2 separate regions of the Homo sapiens genome follow, and region 1 is reported to be linked to region 2. The links are microRNA targets in miRTarBase. Many come from high-throughput screens and were not tested one by one. Region 2 holds a microRNA gene; the other region holds the end of a gene's coding sequence.
What was found. The annotated mature microRNA hsa-miR-650 reads AGGAGGCAGCGCUCUCAGGAC and lies in region 2 at 1,879-1,899, shown strand. An mRNA with a match to its seed (bases 2 to 7 or 8) in the 3' UTR can be bound and repressed. Matches are read on the target gene's strand: a 7mer-m8 pairs with bases 2 to 8, a 7mer-A1 pairs with bases 2 to 7 and ends in A, and an 8mer does both.

Region 1 (3,000 bases), not on the chromosome of region 2:
TCCCAATTGGTTTCTAGAGTTCTCACAAAGATATTCTGGCCCATATATTGTTAACTCAGCGTCTCTGGGAGAATGAGGACGTGGAGTTCCCAAGTCCATCATCTTGCTGACATTACTCCCATCTACCAGTGTTAGCAAAAAACTAGTATGATGATTCATATATGATATTCACATATACAAATATGCTAGTAACATTTCTGATTCATGTATGATATTCACATATATGAATATGCTAATAAAATTTCAGAGTATATTGATAAAAAGTGCTTATCCAACAAGTTTTACTTATCTACTTATCTCCTGGTGGTCTGTATCAAAATCAATCTCATTCTTAGAGATGATAAAGTTTGGCCTAATAAAAAATTTTCCCAAATACGGCCAAAACAACTCAAGATTTTAACTCTTGAATCCTGGGACCCTCAACCAGAAATCTTCTCATGATTATTTTAGAAGAAAATTTTCCTCTGGTTGGGGAAGGTTTTGATATCCCCAGTGTAATGTACCTTCCCTAATTATTTTGGAAACTACTGGTTTCAAAGATTATATAGTAACATTAGAAATCCTGTGTGTTTAGTTTTGAGAAAACACTCCAACAGGAAGCACCTGCTAAATGGAAGGCATTGAAACATTAACTTTGTATCACATGCACTTTTATTACTTTAGGTATAAACATATTTTTTAACTCATTAAAATTTTGATTTCAATTTCTAAGTGATTATAAGTTCCAGTGGACTAAATGCATTCTAGTTGATCTTGTTTTGTGATCACTCTACTGCTGATTAGAATCTCTACTAGAAATTTTGTATTTTCAAGAGGAGGAACAAAGAGCAGAAATGGGATAAGTAAAATTTTAACTATCTTCTTGGGTTCAATTGTATTGCTCTGGTGAGAGAACTCAGCAGCAGGCAGAAGAGGACAAAGGCATGATGCATATTCAATGAGTAATGCACTTATAAGTAAGTTTCTTTAAATATAAAACATATTGAAGATAATAATACTCTATTCCTAGCTAAGGTTATAGTCTTGTCTTCTCATGAGAGTAAATATCCTTGAGGACAGGTACCACCTCTGTTCAAAATTGATCCTTCCCAACCCCTACTTCCACACTACCCCATACATTTGTAGGCAGGCACTAGATTGAGCTCAATAAATGTTTTGAGGAGTAACTAACAGAGTTATCATCACAACAGCTTCAGTTAAACTTAGAGCTATTTCTACTTGTCTGATGAGTGTCATTTTTTGTTCTGTAGTCTCTCCCTAATGAATCCTTCTTTTTAGTAATTCTTAAAATTCTATTGGAACTCTAAAACAGTTGAAAAGAGAGCAGGCATAGGGCCATACCAGTCATTTCCAAGATAAAAATGGTCTCAGATAAGATTCTAAAGAAAGTCCACTCCTCTTTGTATGTTTCAAAATGGCTTCAAGTGTTGTTTTGCCATTTAAGTGTGAATGTACTTGGCTTATGAAAGTAGATAGAAACTCAAAATTATTACTAATAGTGAAGTCATGATTTTTTAAGAGATTGAGACAGCAAATAAAATTGGAGAAAAATTCTTCTTTATTTAAAAATACCAGTAATACTGACAGACTTCAAAAGCAATTCACGCTTCCAGAATACAAAGTACTTAATACATATTTTCAAACCTGTTTGCATTTCAAACAAAGTTAGCGTTTTTGTAAATCAAATTTGATAACCCGACTAAAAATATTTTCCAGCTTTATTATTTAAGGAGCTGCACAGCCTTTAAAGTGGGGACCAGGAGGCAGGCAGAGGCAGAGAGACTGAATGCACCCAGGACTGCGCAGCAGTCTACAGCAACATGTCCCACAACTTTGGTGCTGGAAACACAAGTAATGCACAAGACAGCTGCCCTCCAGTGTCAGGATCCTGTGAAACAGCATATCAAAAGATCGCCAGCTTCTTATAATTTACACACTTTCATTTAGGATTGCTTTTTGAAGAAAATCTTTAAGAATGCCATTTTAATTTAATATCCAGAACCCTGAATTTAAAAAACTAATGAAAGAAATTAACTGTTACCATCAAAATGGTTGTTGCTGAGCTGTGTGAGTAGGAATTCTATGCTTTTTTAGATGCAAGAAAATTAACACATAATGCAAGTTTAATTTGAAATCACACAAGTTATGTATGTAGGCTCAGATAGTAGCAATGTTCACTTTTATTACTAATAGCTTAACTGAAACAGCCATCTATTCATTCCTCCAGCAGGAATAGCAGCACCAAGATCTTCTAAAATTCTTTACATATAAAGCTTAAGTCATTATCCAAGTCCCATTCTTTGCATGCTCCAATTCTTGTTATCTTATTTAACATAAAAGCAACAGGATTTGGAGAGTTACTATTTGCTGTATTAAAACAGTTACACAGCATCTTGTACTGTCAAAAAGCAAAATACTGTGAATGGCAGCCTGTCTTCACAGCTCTAAACTTGAAGCTGCCAAACAGTCACTGCTTGTGCCAGCAGTGGTTTTCCACAGAAAAATAGCAGAAACTAAAGGAATCATGGCACAATGGATTTCTGAATTATTTTGTCTACCATTGGTCCTGGGGCTTAGTACCTTCCCCCTTGTAGACTATATCTGCTGATCATTCCAGAATCATCTTTAATGAAGGAAAGGCATCAGGTCATATAGCGGGTAATGGCTCTCAGAGCATAAAGGAGTTCTGCTTGCATCCTAGCTTCTATAAGAAGCAGATTAACATGAACCTGAATATAAAATACAACATCATATAAGGAAGGGTTACAAGCATTCACAATCAGTTTTTCAGTGAATCTAATGAACACATAAAATAAGTACACTTCCTACACTTCCTATGTAGTACAGCATAACTTAGCCTTGGGTTTGTTGAACAGATTATAAATTTCTCAAAACAGCAGCTATCTTTTTTTTTTTTTTTTGATGCACACTTTCACTCTTTCCCAGGCTCGGGTGCAGTGGCACGATCTTGGCTCACTACAACCTCCACCTCCTGGGTTC
Region 2 (3,388 bases):
ACTTAAAAAGCCACCACAACCCACCCTTGTCAACAGGAAACCCATTCACATCTCCATCAGCCACACAATCTCCACATAAAGATTCTTCAAAAAATAATAACAATAGCCATGCAAAGTATATGATATATATCATAAATAATTGTACTTAGATTATATATGAAAATGATACTCTTTTTGATATGCTAGGTAAATAAAATACATTATTTAAACTCATTGACTTCTTCTCTTTGTATTTATAACATGATGACTAGACAGTGGGATTCCCATGAGGCTCACATCACATTGTGATTGAACAAGGCTGGTCTGCAGGGCTTCAGGTTACAGGGGCTGTGGAGTGACCTGGTGCAGGAAGCCCCGTCTCCATCCATAGGACATCAGTGTGAACCCAGGGAGAGGCGCTGGTATAAGAGAGATGAGAACACAGGTGTGAACCACCTGCTTGTGCAGGGGACTGAGCCTTCACTTTGAGCCAAATAAGTTTTCTTTCCCAAGTTCGATCCTGAACAAGAGGGCTTTCTGGACTTCTTTTTGTTTTCAGGTTTGTGCCCCTTCAGGTTTGGGGCTGTCTGGAGTCCCAGCCAGGGGACAGTGAGGAAATCCAGCAGTCTCACACTGACTCTGTTGTATTTCATCTGCTGGGGCCATCCCAAACTGCTGCGTACCATTTCCTTTCCTGGTGCTCAAATAGCTGCTCCATGCACTTGTCATGGTTTTATAGCTCAATCTAGATGGGAAGACAGGATAGTGTATGTTACAATATTTAAATAGAACCTGAATCCCTTAATAGTTATTTTAATATGGAACATTAAAAGAGTTGCATCATAGGCAATGGGGAAAGATGAAGAAAGATTAAACGCATTTGGAGGAAAAACTAAAAATGTCTTTATTGAATGTCTGTGTGTCTTCAGTGTCGAAGGGTTGAGAGAGGTCAGCTTTAGGTTGTCCTGAGGATGTGCTCAGATGGGGGAAAGTAAGAAAGCCGGAAACGTGCATCTCTGTGACCTGACACATAAATCACAGTAAAATGGAAGTAAATCTTTCAATAAACCTTTCAAGATAACATCACTCTGGTGCACATAGAAAGGCCTGTTAGCAAACTTTCCCTTTTCCCTGCTGGCTCATATCCCCATGGATCACCTGTATGCAGAACGGACTCTGTGGTCTCCATTTATCAGGCTGAGAACCAGAGGCTGGGAAGGACAAGTCACCTGCTCATGAGTGGGAGGGGCAGGATTGGGAGCAGCGGACTCAGGCTCAGGACTGTGGCCCTGGTTGGTGCTCCTTGTTCCCTTCACAGGGTCCCACCCACATGTGCCCGTGTGGATGTGGGTGCACTGCCTGGGGTGGCTGATGTGCTCCAGGGATTTGATGGTGCAGATGCTTCAGGACAAAGCATGGGAGTGGGGATGGGACGAGGCTGCCGCTGGGCAGACCAGGGACCAACGCCACCCAGCAGAGGCTTCCAGTGGGGTTGGGCAGCCCCATTTCCTGAGAATAGAGAGAACCTGGCAATGAGTGCCAGAAAGAGGTTACTTCGAGGTGTGCCCAGGCCTGGAGGGTCACAGAGACACAGGCACCACACAGCAGAGACACTGAGGGCCAAGAGCTCACTCAGGTGAGGGGCTTCAGCAGATTTTTCTCTCCTGAGCAAATCACGTGCAAAGAAATCAACTTCCTGTCATCAGAATAGACAATCAGGGACTTTAGTCTCCTTGGCTGAGCCCCGCTGTCAAGGGAAGCAGAAGTCTCTAAGCCCAGGCCCAAGTGAGGGTGGGGTGAGAAGAGGAGCTCAGGATGCAGATTTGCATGGAGGTCCCGCCCTTCTCTGAGGCAGAGGGGATAAGACAGGGCTGGGGGCAGGCCCAGTGCTGGGGTCTCAGGAGGCAGCGCTCTCAGGACGTCACCACCATGGCCTGGGCTCTGCTCCTCCTCACCCTCCTCACTCAGGGCACAGGTGATGCCTCCAGGGAAGGGGCCACAGGGACCTCTGGGCTGATCCTTGGTCTCCTGCTCCTCAGGCTCACCTGGGCCCAGCACTGACTCACTAGACTGTGTTTCTCCCTTTCCAGGGTCCTGGGCCCAGTCTGCCCTGACTCAGCCTCCCTCCGCGTCCGGGTCTCCTGGACAGTCAGTCACCATCTCCTGCACTGGAACCAGCAGTGACGTTGGTGGTTATAACTATGTCTCCTGGTACCAACAGCACCCAGGCAAAGCCCCCAAACTCATGATTTATGAGGTCAGTAAGCGGCCCTCAGGGGTCCCTGATCGCTTCTCTGGCTCCAAGTCTGGCAACACGGCCTCCCTGACCGTCTCTGGGCTCCAGGCTGAGGATGAGGCTGATTATTACTGCAGCTCATATGCAGGCAGCAACAATTTCCACAGTGTTTTAAGTCAATGAGGAAGTAAGATCAAAACCTGCCCTGGGCTCTCAGGCCCCCTTCTTGCTCTGCAGATGCTTCCTCACGCTGTATAAGGGTTTCCTGCAGGATGGCCTTGACAATTCTCCTCTCTCAGCTCCTCTCCTTTCCCACCATGAGGTCTAAAAGGAAACCTGCTCGTGATTTCTCGTTCAGGACTGTGGCAACTTCCTTTTGCTTGTGTGCTCTGGTCCCTTAACGTGCAACTATTCCTAGCTCTTCAATGCAGGGACGTAGGGACAAGGAGTTTACTGCTTGGTGCAGTCCCTCCTGTTTTCAGGAACATCCTCATTCTAAATGCATCCCCCATCTGTCACACTATGCAGATCAATCTGGACAGAAGCCATCAGGGGGATGGCTTCCAGTTTCCAGGAATTGCATCTTGTTCCACTCTGTGTCCACCACGCTCTAATGAAGATGGCCCTCCTAGCTTAAAGTGACCACTTTAAGAAGACTTGAAGATGTTTTTGAGGGATTAAGAACAAAGAGGATGCTGCTGTTTTTCTTTTTATTGCTCCTGCTCTTTGCCGAAATTCCTCAGGTTGCTGAGCTGGGGAGATTTTGAGTGACAGGCTCAGTGCTCTCGCAGAATTCTCCTCCCCTCACATCGCTGAGGCCCTGTCCTGGAAACTCCTCACAAGTGGACGGTCTTCCCATAGGATGGGGGATTCCAAAATGGCTCCACAGGAAAGAGTTAACCTGAGTCCACCTCCCTTCCTCATGGACATCGAGCATTTCTAATTTTCATGGCTGTCAATACTTTTGTACCTGGAATCCCTAATAATCTAATGGTGAGAATTGATTTAGAACACATTCGGACATTAGCTGGGTCCAATATTTAAATTTTCTGAGCCAGTTGTTAAATACAGCTATTATCATATATAGTTTAGGCTCCTTAAACTTCGATTATACAGATTATATTTAAAACAAAGTAACTAGTTTACTATATATATTTACAAAGTAACTACTAT

Region 1: the mRNA of SESN1 is a reported target of hsa-miR-650. Seed matches in the 3' UTR shown: 7mer-m8 at 1,760-1,766.

Annotation. Positions count from the first base shown.
Region 1 is chr6:108,984,902-108,987,901 of GRCh38, forward strand. SESN1 (sestrin 1) reads right to left here. Exons shown (of 10, transcript NM_014454.3): 10 at 1-2,729. The coding sequence ends at 2,643. It also overlaps a transcript of ARMC2 not described here. Among named protein-coding and RNA genes, the nearest start is that of ARMC2-AS1, 62 kb to the left of the region's middle.
Region 2 is chr22:22,820,913-22,824,300 of GRCh38, forward strand. It overlaps MIR650 (microRNA 650), which reads left to right and starts at 1,864; the gene lies at 1,864-1,959. LOC105372948 (a long non-coding RNA gene) reads right to left here. Exons shown (of 4, transcript XR_938047.2): 4 at 69-724. It also overlaps IGL and IGLV2-8.